2 separate regions of the Homo sapiens genome follow, and region 1 is linked to region 2. Evidence: fine-mapped expression QTL. A gene starts in region 2. The other region holds a variant in brackets. All regions are shown on one strand. Distances are between the middles of the regions. Region 1 overlaps GRXCR2 (glutaredoxin and cysteine rich domain containing 2). Region 2 holds the start of PRELID2 (PRELI domain containing 2).

Evidence for each region. PIP is the estimated chance that this variant, and not a neighbour inherited with it, causes the effect.
Region 1: its variant is fine-mapped to the expression of PRELID2 in gastroesophageal junction (GTEx, PIP above 0.99).

What each region holds. Positions count from the first base shown.
Region 1 is chr5:145,852,104-145,862,615 of GRCh38, reverse strand. It overlaps GRXCR2 (glutaredoxin and cysteine rich domain containing 2), which reads left to right. Exons shown (of 3, transcript NM_001080516.2): 3 at 2,701-4,095. The coding sequence ends at 2,883. Among named protein-coding and RNA genes, the nearest start is that of GRXCR2, 16 kb to the left of the region's middle. RefSeq lists a cis regulatory region at 7,459-8,058. The variant G/A (reference allele first, on the strand shown) is at 6,208.
Region 2 is chr5:145,830,300-145,840,811 of GRCh38, reverse strand. PRELID2 (PRELI domain containing 2) reads left to right here and starts at 5,470. Exons shown (of 7, transcript NM_205846.3): 1 at 5,470-5,635. The coding sequence starts at 5,561. RefSeq lists a silencer at 5,159-5,278.

The DNA.
Region 1 (10,512 bases), 22 kb before region 2:
GTGGATTGGTGGGTCTGTTGGGTTCTAGAACCTAAGCTATGCTGTGCAACTATGTTCTATATCCTACTAAATATTTTCTGAGAATAATTTTAAAAGATACAGAGAAAGGAAGAAAGAGGCTTATAGTATACAAGCCTTGTATAGAGTGGTGCTTATTAAATACTTGCTGAATTAGTTGAATGATTAAAAAGAGCATGTTGAGGGTAAGTGGTCAGAGAGTGGTAACCCAGAATAAGAATGGAAACTCCAGTGAAACTTCTAATAATGTAGTGCACCCTAGAACTATATGACATTAGATATAATTTGATGGAAGACGTGTTCTTATTCTCTACAGAAGGCTTACTAGGTCATTTCATTAATCTTTCAATATCTGATCTGGCGTTTTATGCAAATGAATTTTTGGATCACATGTATAGCATTATGTTAGGATTTTACTGTACTTTCCCTCACAGTGTGGACTTATGTTATTAAAATCTCACTGGGATGAAGTACAAAACATAAAACCTAATGGATTTGGCAGGAAATGAATCGTGGCAACTTGCTTTAAGAATATTTTTGCAAATATGTATTATTTTGAATACTTTAAGAAAACAAATTCTCCATTGTTAATATACTAAAATATGGTAGCAATCAATAAAATATTAACGAAAGGGTACATAGACCTGATTTGAGTTTTTGTCAATTGGGTAATTACTTTCATTCCTTAAATCTAGAATAAATAAAATTTAGTATCTTCTTAGGCAATTTGCAGCATGATGGAGCTATTTTCAAAACGTATGCCTCCCTTTTCAGGGATTATTTTTATTCTTAGGTTATAAAAGAAAGCTGAATGAGTTGGGCAGAGCTACCCAGCGGACTCCTGCTGTCTTGTTGGTCCCTAGAATTTAAGAACAGGAAGGGTTCTCCAGATATTATTGTTCATTTGTTTATTCATTTGACATAAGTAGCATGCCAGGCACTGCACTAGATGTTTGGGAAGTGATCATGAAATGGTACAAGTCCAGAGAGCTCCCTGTCTAATCAACAGGAACTTTCACTGGAGTATGGGATACCTGTCATGCGAGGGGCAGTACAGGTGGCCATGGGGGTGGGGGAACTCCTGGTCCAGAGCTGTGGGTGGGCAAGCCTTCTTGGAGGAAGAGCTGCTAAGCTGACTTCTGGGGACAAGCAGGAGTTGGCTGCGTTGGGATTGGGGAAAGGTCCCTGGAGACCAAGTACAGAGAGGCCCATGAACAAGATCCTGATGAAAGAAGTGACAAAAAATTTAAATCGGCTAAGGAGACTGGGTTTTATCCTGAGGTTTTATCTGGAGGGCAAGTGTTCATTAAAAAGGTTTCCTGATTGCTTTCTATGTGACAATCACTACTGCAGGCAACTTAATAAGCTTGGCATCAGTGGGAAGAACATACCACAAGACCAGAGGCATGGGTCCACACTCAGTTCATGCCAGAGTCAGTGGGCAATTGGGCTGGGATTGTAGTTGTGGGATGAAGAAAGCAGGATGGATTTGAGATTTTCAGAAGCTGAAATGGCCAGGACTTGGTACTGAATTTAGCAGGTTTCGATCTAGTATCTCCCCTTATTTCTGGGAAGGTTCATAGTCTATAAGGAGTACCAAGATCACCAATTTCCTTAAGATAGCTTTAAGGGGGAGAGCAAGACAATAGCCAAGGAACATTTTCTGAAGAGTGGGAGTCAAGAACTGGAGATTTGTTAGCAAGGCTTAGGAGAAGGTGCACCTATGATCTGACAGATAATATTGCATTACATATATTCTCTCATTTAATGTTCCAGCTACTCAGAAGGGTAAGCATTATTATTCAATTCTATAAATAAAGAAACAGATTGGGAGAGGCTAAGGGAACTATTCAAGTTGCACAGCTGATGGCAGACAATAGCCTCAGTCCTAGTCTATTAACTCCAAAGTACAGAGCTCTTAATCACTGGGCCTTAGCTCTCAAAGAGAATAAAGATATAAGTACTGCAAGCATACAGAGCTAAGCTTTGAAGGATTGTAACATTTATCGATTCATTCATTTCTCCACTCAGTCTCTCAGTCACACAGAACAGTCTTGGGCATTTACTATGGACAACTACAATGAGGGGCTGTGCACATAGGCATTAGGAGCATGAATTCTGGTGCTCAAATCGCTGAGATGAGAGCCCACCTCTTCCTTTTTCAAGCTGTGTGTGTGACCATTGGCAAACAACTTCTCAGTATCTCATTTTCCCATCTGCAACACAAGGATAATAATACTTACACTATCTCACTGGGATTTTGTGAGGATTAGATGGATGATATATAGGAAGCACTTAGAACAGCACCTGGCACCTATCAGGCATGCTACAAGGGTTCACTTGTAGTATTTGGCAATAAGGAAAATAAAGTCCTTGCCCTTTATGGAGCTTACAGAAAAAACAGGTCAGAGATAGTGACAAGGGCAATGAAGATCATGAAGTCTTGGAATGCAAAGTGTGGTGGCACAGGATGCTGTCTTAGAGGTGTCCACCAGGGGAATCCTCTCTGATAAAATTGCTGTAACTATTCTGGGTCCCAGATGATTCTCTCACTGACATTCGTGGGAAGCATTTTCCTCTATTCTGCCCCAGCCTTTGCTGTAGTCTAGTGCTGTTTTGACCTGCATGTGAACAACGGACTTGAACTGCTGCTTTAACTAAACCCTAACCTGTCTCTTGCAGGAAGGGGATATTCCCGAGGACAGCTGTTTTCACTGCCGAGGGTCGGGCAGTGCCACCTGCTCTCTGTGCCACGGCAGCAAGTTCTCGATGCTGGCCAACAGATTTAAGGAGTCCTATCGGGCCCTGAGGTGCCCTGCCTGCAATGAGAATGGCCTACAGCCTTGCCAGATTTGCAATCAATAGCCCGTGGCTTTTGCATGTCCACTGTTATCTTACCCTCCCTAAAGTTATTTCTAATAAACCGCCCCCTTCTCCTCCTCCTGCCTCTCCCAACAAGGAGGCCACAGTGGCTGCAGTCACTCCCACTGCTGGCAAAACTCAATTATCTGATGACATTTTGTGAGGCCGGTAACATCTCTCTGTGGGTCTAAGTGGCAGGGGCATTTCTGAATTATAGTCTGCTTTGAAACTGGTTCTAAAATTATCCTTCCAGGATGGTGTGAGTGTATCTCACTTGACTTAGCTCAGTTTTCTTCTTGCTTCAGTGAGCAAATACATGTACACTTCAGGCATCAGGTTGGGAGTTATTTTGCAAAATTATGTGGTGAGAAAGGAGTAAAAAAGGCAGGTTTCTGATGAACTGATTTCTTGTTGCTTATAATGCATCTCATGTGATTATTAGTCAAACTGAATTTCTGATTAAGCAGAAGAGGAAACGGACAGCCAACGCTGAACGCACTAGCAGGCCACAGCAAGCAAAATGGGATGTTCACTGTGGAGACAGGCAAGCCAAGGAGCCTTCCCTTTCAAAGTCCTGAACCTCTTCCATGTGGTGTGTTTGGATAATATTTATGCAGACAGTGAGCAATACTATTTCTTAAGTCAAGATGAGATAAGACATTTTTGTGTGCCTCTAACTACTGAGGTTATAAGCCAAGTCAAAGTTATTTATGATAAATTTGGTGCTCAAATATGTGTGTATGATATAACTTCTTCGAGCCCCTGAATTACTACCAAATAAATAAATCCACTTTAAGTCTAGAACCTAGCCATGATCTCTTCATAAAGGACTGCAGGTATTTTATAGATTACCTACTGGAAATCTCTAAAAGAAAAAAATTAACCAAGGCTGATTTTTAGCAGTAATGTTTCTACTATCCATGAATATGCATAGTAAGGATGATTCTTTCCTCTTGAGGTTGGTTATAAAATTAGAACATACTTTTGTTAATGAACTTTTATAGCTCTAACACCCACTCCCCAAGCCCCTTAAGAATAACACTGCAAAATTTATCTCTTGAGACCTGCTGCATTCTGTGATAATAATTTTGATTTCATAACTTAATAATTTCTCAAGATTTGTTTGTTATTCTCTAATATTCAGCGTTTAACATAATTTAACAATGGAATGCTTTTCAGGCAATATAAATAATTCTAATAAAAAAGACTAAAATATTTTTGAAGCCTTGATAGTTTTGCCTGTCCTTTCATACTCAGGAGTTACCATATTGCTCACCAGCTTTCTTTGCTTCTGTCCTTAACTGTTATACCTCCTGCCTCTGTTTATGTTTTCTCACAGCTGTTGGCTCTTCTGACTTTTCAGAATACTAGAGGAAGGAGGGATGTTGAGAGTGTATTCTGCTTTTTTTTTTTTTTTTTGTGGGAGACAGAGTCCGCTCTGTTGCTCAGGCTGGAGTGCAGTGGTGCAATCTTTGTTCATTGCAACCTCTGCCTCCCGGCTTCCAGCGATTCTCCTGCCTCCGCCTCCTGAGTAGCTGGGATCACAGGCACATGCCACCACTCCCAGCTAATTTTTGTATTTTTAGTAGAGACGGGGTTTCGTCATGTTGGCCAGGCTGGTCTCCAACTCCTGACCTCAGGTGATCCGCCCATCTCGGCCTCCCAAAGTGCTGGGATTACAGGCATGAGCCACCGCGCCTGGCTCTATTCTGCTTTTCGACAGGAATATTCCGTCACAAATATTGTTTGAGCCCCGCTGCATACAGGACAGTATTCCAAAGTGCTTGATGTATCATGTTACCCAGAGAGGCATCATCCCTTTGGTATCTCATGGAACTTAGTTTTAGAGGAGGAGATAGATACATAAATGGATAATTGCAATGCACTGTGACAAGTGCTGGGATAGGATAATTACAGGGAGCATTTGGAGCATGCAGAAGGGGCATCTAATTTAAGCCTTAGTGGGGTTATGCAGGTTGCCCAGAGGAAGAAGTGTGAGCAACCTCAGCTTCTGTAAAGAGCCTTTAATGTTTTTCATCACATAATAAATAACCTACTAATGATCATATTTATTGTGTTCATTTCACAAGTATTCATTTATTATTGTGGTAGGAACACTTAACATGAGAACTACCCTCTTAATGAACTTTTAAGTGTACAGTATGTTATTGTTGACTATCTACAAGTATTTATGGAGCACCGAGGATGTATCAGTAGACAAAACAAACTAAATGCTCCTACGAGCTTAAATTTTGGTGAAGGAATACAGACAACTAAATATATAGATTTATGGGAATAATATATATGTTTATGCAATAAGTATAGCCTATAGAACAAAATATATACAATTATATATAGTAAGCTATATATATAACACATACATTACATATATACACACACATATATGTAACGTATAGTGGTGTTAAAAAGGACAAAAGGCTGGGCGCGGTGGCTCGCACCGTAATCCCAGCACTTTGGGAGGCTGAGGCGGGTGGATCACCTAAGGTCGGGAGATCAAGACCAGCCTGACCAGCATGGTGAAACCCCCCCTCTCTACTAAATACAAAAAATTAGCCAGACGTGGTGGCACATGCCTGCAATACCAGCTACTTGGGAGGCTGAGGCAGGAGAATCGCTTGAACCCGGGAGGTGGAGGTTGCAGTGAGCCAAGATTGTGCCACTGCACTCCAGCCTGGGCAACAAAAACGAAACTCCGTGTAAAAAAAAAAAAATAGGTTGCAATTTTTAAATTAGCTTGCAGGGAGGCTCCTTGACAAGGTGCCATTTATCAGCTTGAGACTGATGTCTAGGAATATAAATTAAAAATAAAAATAAGAAATAAGAAAAGGTGTCATTTAAAGAAAGGCCTAAAGGAGTTGAGGGAGTGAGCTGGGAAGGTGTCTGGCGTAAGACTATCCCAGGCAGAGGAAACAGCAAATGCTAGAGTCGGGAAGAAGAGCGCCTGCACCTTTGAAGAACAGGGAAGGAGCCCGCGTGGCTGGTCTGGGTGAGCATGAAGACAGCAGCGGGGATGACGTCTGAAGGGAAAGTTCGTTCTTGTGTGTCACGGCGGGGGCGCCTCCCTCAGATGCCACGATGAGAACTCGGGTTTTACTCTGAGTGAGGGCCTGCTGTGGATAGAGCCTGCTTTCTGCTACCGCCCTCCGCACTCCCTTTCAACCCCCCGCCCCCTTGCTGCTGGGGCAGGAGACGTGCAAACTACACTTTCCGGACCCCCCGTGCCCGCTGGCTTCCTGTTAGGTGCGCCAGGACACTGGGAGAGGAGAGGGAGGAAGAGCCTTCCTTTTTTTGAATCGGGTTCCCGGC[G/A]GCCTTCCCATAGGGCAGCTGCAGGAGCAGCAGCAGCAGCTAGGAATGCTGGCCGGCTGCTTGCTTCCACCAGTAGCTGCTTTACTGGCTCTGGTTGTGGGCTCGCTGAAACACCATTTTCCCTTTTGTTCCTCCTTCCTAGGGGTGGTAGTGGCTACCTGCAGTCACTAATCTTTGTAACCAATTCCCTATATTTCCTCTCTTGGAAATACCTGGAATGGTTTCTGTTTTCTTGATTGGGCACCGACTGGAGCAGAGGAGGGTCATGGTCTGATGATTTATGTTTTAACAGGCCACTCGGGCTGCTGTGTTGAGAGGAGACACCACTGGCAAGGGCAGAAATGGGAGGCCAGCTAGGAGACTATTGCAATAATCTTGGTGGCAGCTAATAGTGCCAGTGTGGTATCAGTGGATGTGGTAAAAAGTGGTCAGACAATGGATATATTGTGAAGCTAGAACCACAAGCTCTATTTACCGTCCTTTGAACTCAGGAATATTGCTATGACCCCTCGTATGCAAAACATACATACTTGAGTTCTTTGCCTATTACTGGAGACAAGTTTGCACCAAAACATCCACTTCCTGATTTGTGAACTATAAGTATTTGCCAGTGGGTTGGGCAGGGTTAGGAATAAGTTTAAACAAGGTTAACCAACTGGTACTCCACTAAGACTACAAGAATCCCTTCAGAGCTAGAAACAAACACGAAGGTTAAAAAATATCATCATAATGATGCTGTGATTAAAATAATACTATATCCTTAGAAAGCTCAAAAAAGTTTTTAATAAATACGTCTTAAAAATGTAACATCCATTCATTTATTCATTGAATAATTTTTTGTTAGATTTCTGCTATGTTCTGGACATTCGTACTAGGTCCTCAGAAGACAAAGATGAAAAAGGATTTAGTATTTATCGTTAATGAAATTACAGTCTTGGGCCTCTAGTTCACATAGTAACTGAATTTCGGCCCACAGTTTGGGGAGGACACTATAGCTACCCTTTGCTACTTACTCTAGTAACTTTCATTTGTCTGCTTGAGGTCAAGTTAGATCGGCCTGGTTTGGGGGCTGTGTTTGTTAAAGAATGTTATGTATGCATTTATTTAAATTAACAAGCACATATTAGCCTTAACTGCACGTAAGGCATTGCTCTAAGCAGTTCACACTTAATCAGCTCCTAAATTGTCTTAAAGTTGAGTTAATTCAGTTTATTGACCATCTCTTAGTCTCACTCATACTGTTCCTTTCCATGCCGTGCTCACCCAGAGTAAATACACAGGCCCTTTCTGTGATCCTCACAAACATCTTGCCTTACTAGGCCTTTGTGGGTGCAACAAACTGTACTGAAACTGGGGATCTACCCAGGGGACTGACACTGCATCATAGTAATGAGAGGACTTCACAAGACTTCTGCAGACTGTGCCAGCCACTTAGCACCCTTCTGCTGGTTCCTCCTTCCCTCTCTGCCTTCCCATCCCAGCTGACCCTTATTCTTCTTACTCTGTTGCCAGAGTGACTCATCTTTATGGCTCCTATTTCCAACTGTGGCTCAGCCTCAAGGCTTATCTACTCTTCACACACAAAGATCTGCAGAGACCAGGAAGCTTCTTTTTCACAGACTCCACCCTCCTTGAAGGACACTTGTGGTTTGAAATGGCAATATGTTCCCCTCCCTACCTGTCTAAGGGGCTCTGTGCAGCGGGAAGGGCAGAGTCCACAGGCCTTAAACCTTTGCCCCTATAGCAACTCTACCTTTTCTTCCTTGTTTTCATGTTGGTTTCCAGGTAAGATCCCTGCTAAAGAGAGCACAGTACATTTAAAATTTTTGAAAACAGAGTTAACTATTTACTTTGTGATCCATACTTTACTTTTCCAAATTTAACTGGCCAAAGACATCATTTAAGCTTCAGTTCATAGGTAAGATGATATTTTCCTAGTCTAACTCTTCCACAAATATAAATTGCTCTGGTAATATATTCATTTAGATGAGTGCTGGCAACATTTATAAAAAAAATTCTGTGGTTCACTAGAGCTTATGCTAAATTTTATGCTAAAGTGGAGTGAATTTTATGCTAAAGGTAAATTTGAAAGAGATGTTCGCAGTTGTTTTTTAATCACCTGTCCTCATTAGTCGCATGTCCTCATTTTCTAATTAAACACAGTAATTATAGAGAGTCACATTCATGCAATTATGTGAGAGAGAAATGGAGTTATGTCAGTGTCAGAATTATGGCATATAATTACTGCGTGTGTTAAAGAACACATAAAACCAAGAGAAGAAAAGACCTAGAAACATAATACAGTAGAACTTCCTTATTGCTTGAGAGTTGGGGAAAGGAGGGAGGAAAGGGGCAGTTAAATCAGACCTTGACAAAATGAAAATCTATGTTTATCTCCTTTTACACTATGAGTTTCCTCTGTGTATAGTCCCCTTAGCATCCCTATTATCCAGCTCCCAGACACATTTTCCTCCATCAGTGATTATTTCCCAGAAGATTAGGGCCATTAATTCACACTAAGGTATAGATGACTAATAGATAATTGACCATGTCTGCTTTCTTAGGTTCAAAGTGTTATAATTTTTGAAGGCCTCCTATGTGTCAGGCCATGTGTAAGTCACAAGCAGTCACACAGATGAAAGAGACATAGTATCTTCTCTCAAGGACATCATGGTCTCACAGGGAGTTAGAGAATTAAACGAACATTTGCAAAATAAAATAATACATGCCATAGGAGGGGAAGAGGATAAAGATTGGTTAACTCTCCTTTCATTGTTGGTCTCCCTCATTCAGCTTTGAGCTTCTTGAGGGCAGGAACTGTGGCCATGCATCATTGTATCCCCAGCATCTACACTGTGCTTGGTGCATAGAAGGTGTTCTATAAATATGTGGTGGTTTGGTGTTTGCAGAGACATGACCCTTAATTGCACATACAGAGCCCTCAGTGTATTGTTGTCTCATGGGCCAATGCCTTGTGAAAATTTCACCAGTGGGCAGCTTCTAAAATGCCTCCCAATGATCCCCACCTCCTGGTATTCCTGGCCTGTGTAATCCCTTCCCCTTGAGTGTGGACTGGACCAAGTGACTTACTTTTAACAATAGGCTATGGCAAAAGTGATGCGATGTCACTTCAAAGATGAGGTTGTCAAAGATCATGACTCTTTCTCTGGCTTTTTGCTTGCTCACCTGTTGAGGCCAACTGCCATGTTGCAAGGTGCCTTATGGAGAGGTCCACGTGGCAAGGAGCAGAAGGTGGCTTCCAACCAACAGCCAGCAAGGAACTGAGGCCCTCAGTCAGCTGCCTGCTGGGAAGGGAATCCTGCCAACAGCCACGTGAGTGAGCTTGGAACAGGGTCTTTCCCAGTTGAGCTTGAGATGACTGCAACCCCAGCTGACAACTTAATTGCAGCCCATCAGAGACCTAGAGTCAGAACCATTCAGCTAAGCTGTGCCCAAATCTCTGACCTGTGGGATACAAAACTGTGAGATAATATATGCTGTTTTGAGCCAATAAATTTTGGGATGATTTATTACATAAGAAAAGATAACCAGTACAAGGTAAGACCATCTTCTGTCCAGGTCTTTGTTGATGTAGCCTTATATATCTGAAGGTTTTTCTCATGGAGAAGAATACTAGCAACCATTTGTTCTTTGTTTAATGCTCAATTTATTAAGCTCATAAATCTAACACCAAAAACTAACAACCAATTTTTCTTGGGGCCTTTAAATACTGATCACAAATTTATTAAGCAAACCACTGTAAACAATTTAAACAAACTGCAATTATATATTTGGAATGTCTAACCCTTTTAAACACTTCAAAACCGTAATTCACAAACTTATAGAAACAAAGACTACAGAATATATTGCTATAGTTTCACAGAAATCTACTTTAGGGCATCAATATCGTGGGTTTGATGCTTTTCTTATTTCTGTGCTTGTTTTTCTATGCTTGTTTTGATATACCCTCAGGATTTCAGTACTGTTATTTTTATTTCTTTCTGGGGTCACACGATTGTTAGAAGGCCCAAAGAAAAGATTATCTTATCAGAACAGCCTAGATTGCAAGACTTGGTTTATTGACTGATTAATTCTTGGTTACATTTGTTGCTTCTCCCAAGGTGATTCTAACCTAAACCACCTTTTTATAGTAAGCTTTTCTATAGTTCAATGATATCTGTTATGTCAGCAAGAGTATTTCAGGCCTTATCTTATGCCTAGGGTTTAATTTTGCAACCTACTATCTACCCCTGAAATTGTTTTTGTAATTATCACTTGGCTGTTCTTACATAACTGATTCTCCTG
Region 2 (10,512 bases):
ACCAGCCAGGTGTCCTCCAATTCAATTCTGACACTACCTGGAGATAATTCAGAACCCACAAGTTGAGGACTCAGTCCCACAAGATCACTCCGCTGTCCCCACCGTCCCCCATTCAGATGTTAGTTGCAAGTCTTGGCCTCCAGAACTTCTGACTGACCCACTTCAAGATGGGCTTCCCATGATCCTCTCTTTGGATTCAGTTAATTTACTAGAGCAGCTCATAGAACTCAGGGAAACACTTACTTCCATTTACCAGTTTATTATAAAGGATAGTACAAAGGATGTAGCTGAAGAGATGCATAGGGCAAGGTATAGGGGAAGAGGCATGGAGCTTCCATGCCCTCCCTGGATGCACCATCCTCCAGGAATCTCCATATGTTTGGCTAGCTGGGAGCTCTCTGAACCCTGTTCTTTTGGGTCTCTTAGCAAGACTCCATTGGATAGACATGATTGAAGATAACCAGGTAGAAATACGATTAGGCAAAAAAGGATATGATATAATACTAACAGACTGAGTCAGGAAACCTAGTAAGGCCCGCCTGTCTAGATTCTTCTTGGCCTTCCTGTGCAGCATTTCTTCCTGCAGGGTATGGGGTGGGACACTCTCTGGAATGAGAAATCAATCAGAAAAGCCAGGAAAGATTAGAGTCCTGCCTTGGGCAGGTGAAGGGAAGTCAGAAGAAGGTCGGAGAGAGAAAAGCCTGCTTCTGAGGCCTAAAGTGTCCCAATACTATAGCAAAAGACTGTAGCAAGGGCTATGGGAGTTATCAGCCAGGAACCATGAATCTATATTTATACGTGGAGGAGTGGAGTTTAGTGAGGAGTGGGAGTTGGGGAGGAAATTTTACATATATATATGTAAAATATCATACCTCTTAATTGGTCTCTTTCTTTGCTTTGCCTCCCCATAGTCACTTCTCCAAACTGTAAGTAGCCAGAATGATTCTGTTAAAATATACAGTTGAGATCATGTCTCTCCTCTGCTCAAAACTCTCAATGGCCTCCCATCTCATACAGATAAAGCCAACATCTTTACCATGGCCTGGAGGACCCTATGTGACCTAGATTCATGTTTTCTGACCTTATATCTCAGGAACTCTGCAACAGCCATACTGGCCTCCTTGTAGCTCTGAAATGTATCAGGAGAATGCCTGTTTCAGGTCTTGGAACCTGCCATTCCTTCTACGTGGAATGATCCTCCTCCAAATACGAGCATGACTTGCCCTCCTCTTCTTGCAACTTTTCTACTTTAATGTCATTTTCTCAGAGAGGTCTTCCTTAGCTCTTTTAAAAAATTTTAACACTGCTCCTCTCTCCCCTGCCCTGCCATCACTTCTCATCCTTCTTCTCCAGTTTTTGTCTCCTTAGTACCCACGCTTACTTATCATACATGATATTTTACATATTTGAATCTATTCTGATACTTTGCTTTGTTTTCCTTGCAAATTCTCATTCTGTACCCTGGTTTCAATAACTATATCCCTGTTCCCTGCCTTGGCTTGTGTCTCTAGCTCACATCTCAAATGTCAGGTTGCTGGATTTTAGAGACAGTCTTGGCCCACTCAGTTTCTGCCCCTGCATTTCAGTTTTTGTTGACGGAAAAACTGAGCTGCAGGGGCAGGAAGGATTTTGTTCAAGGTCATATTTTATATTAAGTACATTCGTGAGTTTATTCAACATATACTAGGTGCCAAGCATTTTACTAGGCACTGGATAGAGAGGAGTGAATAATATATGCAGTTCCTCCAGTCTTGAGAATGTCACAGTAACAGTGATTTATATATACAGATAATTATAAGACTGGATACAAAAAATCAGTGATAGAGAGATGGTCAGGATGGTCAGAAGAGGGAATTGAACCAACATGAAGAAGGTGAGAAAAGCAGAGAGACAGGGTCAGGGCTGGAGTTCTGTGTCACTTAAATCTTGCAGCATTTACAATCATTCATTCATTCATTCATTCAACCTAAATGTATTGGATGTCTACCATGTTTAAACTATTGTGCCTCCCTGTGAAGATACAAAAGGTATTTGATATCTTATGAAAGTTCTTTAGTAAGATATTTGGTATCTTAAAGACCAAATAAGGTCATGAACTTCTAAGGTTTGCCAGCAAATTTCCACCCTCAAGTCCCTGCCCAGTTAAGCCAACCAATTTCAAAGCGATGGAAATTTGTTTCACAGTTTCTTCTCGCTCCCTCAGAGGACCCAGCAAGTAAGATTACTGTTGTGCAAACTGGCTGTGATTCAGAGCTACAAGATAATAGGCTCATGTTGTCAAGTCTGGCACACGTTTCAGAAAGCCCCAACGTCCTTGGAATGGGCAGGTCACATTTGTTCTTACACAAGTCACTCAGCCAACCAGCCCCAAGTAGAGGTTGCAGGTGGTGGGGCCTTTAATCTTTCAGGACACACCATTGGCCTTTCATGGTTACTTAATCCGGAGATTAAGTCCTGCTTAAAGATACACTCTGGGAGAAACTGATGGTCAGAGTGGATTGAGGATACAGGGCCCAGGACCTACGCTAGCAGGGGGTTTGTATGTCACATCTGGTCTCCAGCTACTCTGGTAAAAGAGGCAGATACAAAATACCATAAACTCTGCAGGTAATTGATCTCTCCTTTGTGGACCTGTGTAGTCTCCCTGGAAGACTGCTTTTTGTTTTCCTGTAAGGAGGGATTGGTGATATAGTGGAGTGGCTTTTAAACATGCATCCAACACATGTAAGAGCATTTGCATCTCATTCTCCTCTCCACTCCTCCCTCTGTATTTCAAGGAAATGCTGCTTACAGGCTTAGTAAGGTGGGGATTAAGAATTAATTATTGGATTTAGCAATTTGGTCATTGGTGACCTTGACAACAGTCGTTTCGGTGAAGTGGTGGGGGCAAATACTGATTGGAATGGGCTCAAGAGATTACAGGCAGCTCTTTTGAGGAGCATCAGTGGACCAGAGACTCGGAATACAGCTGGAGGAAGATAGGGGGTTAAGAGTTGTTTTTTTTGTATTGTTTCTGTTTTTGTTTTTAGATGGAAGAAATTACAGTGTACTTGTTGTGCTGGCTGGAATGGCCCAGTAGAGACAAAAGCTGATGATACAGAAAGGAAGGGGGATATTGCTAGAGAGATGGCCTTGAACAAGAAAGAGGACAGGAACTTTTAGTGATGTACTAGAGCTGGCCATTCAACACAGCTATTATTAAAGTATATAAATTTACAATCACATATAAAAATTAATAAATATTTATTTATTTGAGATGGGTCTCACTCTGTGGCCCAGGCTGGAGTGCATGGCACGATCATAGTTCACTACAGCCTTGAACTTCCGGATTTAATAGAGCCTCTGGCCTTAGCCTCTCAAGTAGCTAGGACTACAGGTGTGCACTGCCACACCTGGCTAATTTTTTATTTTATTTTTTGTAGAGATGGGGTTTCACTATGTTGCCTACACTGGCCTCAAACTCTTGGCCTCAAGTGATCCTTCTGCCTTGGCCTCCCAAAGTGCTGAGGTTACAGGCATGAACCATAGGAGCCTGGCCAAAGAGTAATAAACATTGAAAACTCATCCCTTCCTGCTACATTTTCCATTATTTATGTTTTTGGTTCTTTATGGCTGTCGTATGTGGGTGGTGGAAATACTATGTGATGGTGTGCTTCTGTGCTTCCCTCCCCAACTCCCACTCCTCACTCAACTCCATGTTGCTAAATCCCCAACTTGTGTTTAGTGACATCGAGTTGGCATCTTTAAACATGGTAGGAGTATTTACACCACAGGAATCAGCAACCTTTGGAAATCAGGGCCTTGCTTGATTTATACTTTAAAGGACAGCTATTTGTTAAACATTTTTCAGTTCACCTCAGGATTCAGTGGACAAATGGAGACACTGGTGCTAAAACAAAGTGCTGACAGTTCACCCACAGGAACAAGAGTGAAGGCAAGGCATTTGGTCTGGTGGGTAGAGAGGTGGCAGAGCGATGTGACCTATTGACTAAGTGAAAATGGAAGTAAGGTAATGACTGGAGTATAAGGCTGGGAACAAAGGTGTCAGAGGTGTGGAGGAATGCGGGAGAGTAAGTGGATTAGAGAAATTCAGTACTCTCTTTTTTTTTTTTTTTTGAGATGGAGTCTTGCTCTTGTCGCCTAGGCTGGAGTGCAATGGGCGAGCTCTGCTCACTGCAACCTCCGTCTCCCGGGTTCAAGCGATTCTCCTGCCTCAGCCTCCGGAGTAGCTGGGACTACAGGCGCCCGCCATCACGCCTGGCTAATTTTTGTATTTTTAGTAGGGACAGGGTTTCACCATGTTGGCCAGGCTGGTCTGGAACTCCGGACCTCAGGCGATCCGCCCACCTTGGCCTCCCAAAGTGCTGGGATTACAGGCGTGAGTCACCGCACCCAGCCAGAAATACAGTACTTTCATAGTGTATTTGTCTGGCACCATTAAAAGGCGCCATAGGGTTAGTGGTTATGAACTTAAAAGATGCACAGTGGGTGTGTATTTTCCTTCAGCCCCTTCTGGTGGCTTGGGTAGAGACAGTCAGAGGAGACCTAGATTTACACAAGGCTAGGGTTTTGCCAGACCAGTGTGACTGCGTATGGCAGGGGCGAGCGAGATGGCAAAATCGTAAAAGTCATCACCTCAGAGACCCTCCATAATCACCCTCACTAAAATCATGTCCGCGCCCGTGTCACTTTAACCGATTATTGTTTTTATTTTCCCAGCTTGTTGATTGGGTGTGAAATCAGCCGGCTCATCAGCAGAGCTGGTGTTTCCTCCCTGCGGAATCCGCAGTGCCCACTACAGCGCTGGGGCATAGGAGGCCTCAGAACCGTGCTGAATACACGGATTAACGTGCTGGTTCTCCTAACATCTGTTGGTTGCAGTAAATAATAATACTCGCAACTCTTTTGTATCCTCTAGTTCCTTGCTCCGTGGTGTTTAACCTTAGCGAGCAAAGGAACTTACCTGCAGGTTTTGGTGCACTAAAACGCGGTTCTTATTCCCGAGGCAATCTTTACCTTACACGAGGCCCAAACCCAAGCCTCAGAGGCAGCTGCCTGGTGGCATGAGTAATGCTGGCCTTTGTCACACCAGGCCTTCCTTATTAATACTTTTTTCCCGTGCTGCCAACCACGGCTTATTCTGTGACTCCAGGCGGTGATACCATAAACGCATAAGCCCAAGGTCCAGGTTTCCTGGGGCGGGGCGTGATGGCTCCCAGGCAGAGAAGCTTTTCTCGGCAGGCGCGGCCGCGGGAGGGCACCAGGGCCGCTCTGGCGCCGCCAGCGTGGAGACCGCGGGGCCCCGGGTGCTCTGGGAGCGCTCCAGCGCCTCCCGCGCTCTGTAACCCCAGGCCCCGGACTCTGGCAGTAGGGGCGTGGGCGTGGCCGACTGCGCGTTTCTCCGAGTGGCCAATAAAGTTTCGAAAGTTTGAAAAGCGGAGGAAAAAGGCCACGCCCATGTGGCTGTCCGAGTGTGGGCGCCTCCGGGCCTCTGCGGAGCCCTGGGCAGCTCTGAGCTCGCGGAGGCGTGGCCGGTGCGCGGGGCCCGCGGCGCGCGGGGATGGGGGTCTCGGTGGATGTGCACCAGGTGTACAAGTACCCCTTCGAGCAGGTGGTCGCCAGCTTTCTCCGAAAGGTACCGCCCCGCTTCCACCTTCCGTATCCCGCGCTGCCTCCGCTGCTTGCCCCTCTCTCCTCTCCTTCATCCACGCGGAAGCTGGCACCGCCAGTGTCTCTTTCCAGCTGCGGGCTTTGCTTCAGGGATGTGTGGGTCGAGAGGGATTTCCTCGAAGACTCCCTTTACAGGGAGCGGGAAAAGGGGCCGTGCTTGGCATCACGTTCACACCTGCCCCAGCTGAAAGAAGAGGCTTTCCTTTTAGGAAGAGCCTCCGGGAATCCCAGCTCGTGAGCTCCGTGGAGTTGCAGATGACCGACGTGTGGAGCTTTCCGGTTCATCACTGACCCCTTAAAAGCGAGGGGAGGCCATTGGGCAGTCATCCTGGTTTACTCAGCATGATGGTTCTGCTGCCCCATCCGCTGCTCCTTATTAAACAGCTGTGGGACATCGTGCAGGTTGCTTACTCTCTTTGTGCCTTAGTTTGCTAATCTGTAAAATGGGGAAAATAATAGTACCGACTCATAGAGTTGTTGTGAGGATCCAAATGAGGTAACTTGTGTAAAGTGCTTAGCACAGTTGTGACCTAAATGAAGAAACTGAGGCAAAATCAATATAAAAAGAGAGTTCATTCGAGCCAAGTTTGAGGGCTGCATCCTGGGAGTGAAGGTGCCCTGAGTATACATTCTGATGAGCAGAAGTCGAAAGTGGGTTTTTAAAGGAGAATAAGAAGCACTTCCTAAGTTGTTTACCAAGAATTTATATTAAAATAACATAAACTATTGATTGTCTGTACATTGTTCTTTGTATCACAAATTCCAGGAACTTGAAGATAATGGGTAAGGCAGCTGGTCAGGAACAAAATGCCTTTAACCAGTTGCTCCCAGGAATGGGTTGGGTGAGGAGGGGACCACTAAAGTCCTATACTCTTGTCTCTCTGGGCTTGATTGATTTTGCATATTTCACTGTAACTCACACAATCTGCTCTGAGCTATTTTTCTTTTTCTCACTGCTACTGATGTTTAGTTAGGGCTCTAAAATGTTATTGTTGTTTGTATTACTACAACCGATTTCAATACAGATAATGAACTCTTCCTCAATACTGAGGAGCCCTGAATCCCAAAGACTGTTTCTAGGATTGTGGGTCCTGATAATAGGAAAATGGGAAATGTCTTTGAAAAATCGAAAGCGCCCAGGCCTGGGAGGCAGGACTCCTGGACTCTGATCTGGTTCTATGCGTGGTTAGTTCTCTGGGTGACCTTGGCTGAGGGTCTTTTCTCTAGGCCTTAGTTTCCACATCTATAAGATGAAGGGGTTGTACCAGATGATCTTTGAAGGTCCCCTTCGGTTTTCATAAGCAAAATTTGCAACAGTTGCAATTTGCCTTGGTTAGCAGCCACGGGACATTGAACTCCATATGCAACCCGGAAGCCAAACTAAGGGAGATGCTGGGAAGATGAAGGTCATTTGTTAAACGATAAGGTGTAGCCTCCGTTAGAGGAGGTGACACGGTGGCCCTGGTCACAGAGGAGTGAGGAGGACACTGGTTAACACTTTGTTGCTATAGGGGGCCTCTTTAGAAGGAATGTCAGCTTGCTGATATGTTCGTTGATTTTCAGTATCTAGACTAGTGCCTAGCACCTACTAGGTATTTAATAAAAACCTGAGCAATGAATAAATGAATGAAAGAATGATTTACAGACCTGTTGTAGACTTTGCCTTAGGCCAGGCTTCTGGGCCCAAAAAGTAACAGCCAACACCCAATTTTTTTGTTAGAACTGGCACTTTGGAGTCTGGGTACCCTTAAGCCACTGCTCCTTTGTAAAGTCTTTTTGGATTGTCATCATCAAGAGTCAGTTGATCTCCACCTTCTCAGAACTCACAGGGCACTCTGTCTAGGCGTTGCTGACCGTCTGCAGTGTCAGATGGTGACTTCTGTATGTGTTGTGTTTCCCGTTAGACTCTAAGGTTTTTAAAGGTGAGACTCACTCCTGCAGAAGCACATAACACAATGCCAAACTCTTATTTACGGAGGTCCTGGCGCATTGTCAGCTTTTGGTAAATGCTTTTCTTTTGTTGAATACTTATCTTCTGTGTGCCAAGCTTTGTGTTAAGTGCTAGAAAAATGTGGGAGGTCACCGCAGACCCTGTTCTCATGGAACTGATGGTGTGTAGTGGGGAGATTAACATAAATAAATGATGCGCAAATGAACACAAAATTCAAATTGATGATGTGTACTTATGAAAGGAAAATACATGGTGCTTGAATATAGCAGGGAGGCCTGCTGAAGTCAGAGAGGGTGATCTTTAGGAAAGGCTTTCCTGAAGAAGTGGCACTGGTGAAATGATGGCTGAAGCATGAATAGAAGTTTCCTAGGAAGGCTGGGTGTGTGGTGTGTGGTGTGGTGTGTGTGGTGTGGTGTGGTGTGTGTATGTGCGCTCATGTGTGCTTTCCATACTTTATCATGTTTACTGCTGCCAGCACCCTCAGGAAGTAGTTATGATTAATTTCCATTTTACAATATAGAGAAACTGAGGACCAGAGAAGTCCAAGTGCCTTCCTCAAGTTCCCACAGCTAGCAGGTAGGACAGCCAGGATTTTAACACATGGATCCGAAACTCACAGCCTTAGCCACCCGGCTGTGCTGCATTGCATATAATAGGCACTTCAACGATTATTGAGGTAATACAGGGTTTCAGAATCAACTTTGCCGGCTGGGCACGGCAGCTCACTCCTGTAATCCCAGCACTTTGGGAGGCCGAGGCGGGCGGATCACTTGAGGTCAGGAGTTCAAGACCAGCCTGGCTAACATGGTGAAATACCATCTCTACCAAAAATACAAAAAATTAGCCAGGTGTGGTGCCCTATGCCTGTAATCCCAGCTACTCGGGAGGCTAAGATGAGAATCACTTGAACCCAAGAGATGGAGGTTGCAGTGAGCTGAGATCATGCCATTGCACTCCAGCCTGGGTGACAGAGCAAGACTTCATCTCAAAAACAAAAACAAACAAAAAAACCCAAAAAACTTGGCTGTGCTCAATGTGTTTTCTTTTGTTCACAGTCTTCTCTCAGGGTTTGCTCAGCTAAGTGGACCTGTTGACCCTGATATAAAGATATAACTTTGATGTGTGTTAGGGTGAGAACACAGAATGTTTAAGTTATCTATTGGTATGTAACAAACCACTCCAAAACGTAGCGACTTAAACCAATGACAGGCTTTTAATTTTCACAATTCTGTGAGTTGACTAAACTCATGTGGTTGATTTTTGTGTGCTGTGTGGTATAGCTGAGGTCACTTATGTAGCTGTATTCAGTTAGAACCTGTTGTAATTCTTATAAAATATTTAGCAAAGTACCTGGTACATAGTGAATAAGTACTATGAAAAGGCAGAACTGGGAAGGGCAGAACTGGGAAACAGAACTGGGGATGTCAGAACTGGGAAATGGAAGGCAGAACTGGGGAAATGAGAGACAAACATTTGGAGACTAAAGGTCTAGTGATGGGACAGTGTTAACATCATGCATGTCACTGTACTTCCTTTCTTTCTATTCATTCATAAAGGAATCCTTCAGAGATTCCTTGGGAGGAACTATGTGACTATTTCTAAGATGTCAGTAAACCCATTTGCTGGGTGAATTTTCCCCTTATGTTATTCAAAGCCATGAACTGGTAGTCAGTAGACCTGGATCTTGATCATTATGCTTTCACTGTTAGGTTGGGTGGCCATGGGAAACAATTTTCACCATCCTATACTGTGTCCTTGTGCAAATTAGAAAAGGCATCTTTTAGGGGTCCACTCCATAAGCTCACAGTTCATAGGGCTAGGGGAAAGCAAATGAGACTATTTATGCAAATTAGAAAAAGTTACTCCTTCCTTTAGGTGGATGCAGTCCTGTGCCCACAGGCCCACTTGACCAGGAGCCCTTGTGCAGTCAGCAGCATCACAACTGTGTAAGCCCTAGTTTCTCCTCTGTGAAAATGGTAATGCCACCTACCCCACCTACCTTCCAGGGTTGTTGTGAGGATGTCACATGTGTTAACAGTTTGAAAAGCATAAGCTTTTTTATAAGCCTAAGGTAGTAAGAATTATCTTTTTGGCAAAATACACTTTTATTTTTCTTTCAGTCTTTATGATTTTTTTTTCAAAGGAAAGCACTTGGCAGAAGCGACAATCATATGAGGATCACTGGGAAGCATTTAATCTGATTTTGCACAATGGTATGTTTGAAGCTGCTTTAGCACTGAGGAAGTTCTATTTTAAATCAGATCTACTGATCTATGGCTTTTGGTTTGTTAGGAGTTGCCTTCCAAGTTATAATATACTACGGTTTTTAAAACCTGAAGAATGTTTGCTCTTCTTACATCTGCCTGTTGAATACCACAGGCAAAATATTAGCTGCATGCTTTCAAAGCTAAGTGACACTGTGAAAACAAACAATATGATACTCTTTGTTCCTAAAATACAATATTTCTCAATAAACTCTTCATGGAGGAATGTTATGAAACCCAAAATAGTTTATTCATTGGATGCTGAACTGTATGTACTTTCCAAGAACTATAGTGTCAATGCACTTGACAGTGTATTTTGGTTTCTTTCTTTGTGTGATTCTTAGCTTTCTAGCTCTTATCACTTACCACTGTTTCCTTCCTTTTACTTAAAATCATCTACAAAGAGAACACAAAGTTGCATAGATGAATGTAGCAGTGTAGAAAGTGGGTCTTCTCTGGAATCTCACTTAGACCTTTTTAATGGGCTTGCCTTTCATGAGCTGGATTCAGAGAACTTCTTAAATTTCATCTGCCTGAAATTTAAACTCATTAAAAAGGATCCAGAGAGCTATTATATTGACTGGATTTTCTTGTTTATATCTAAATGAGGCCAGAGAAGTAAAGATT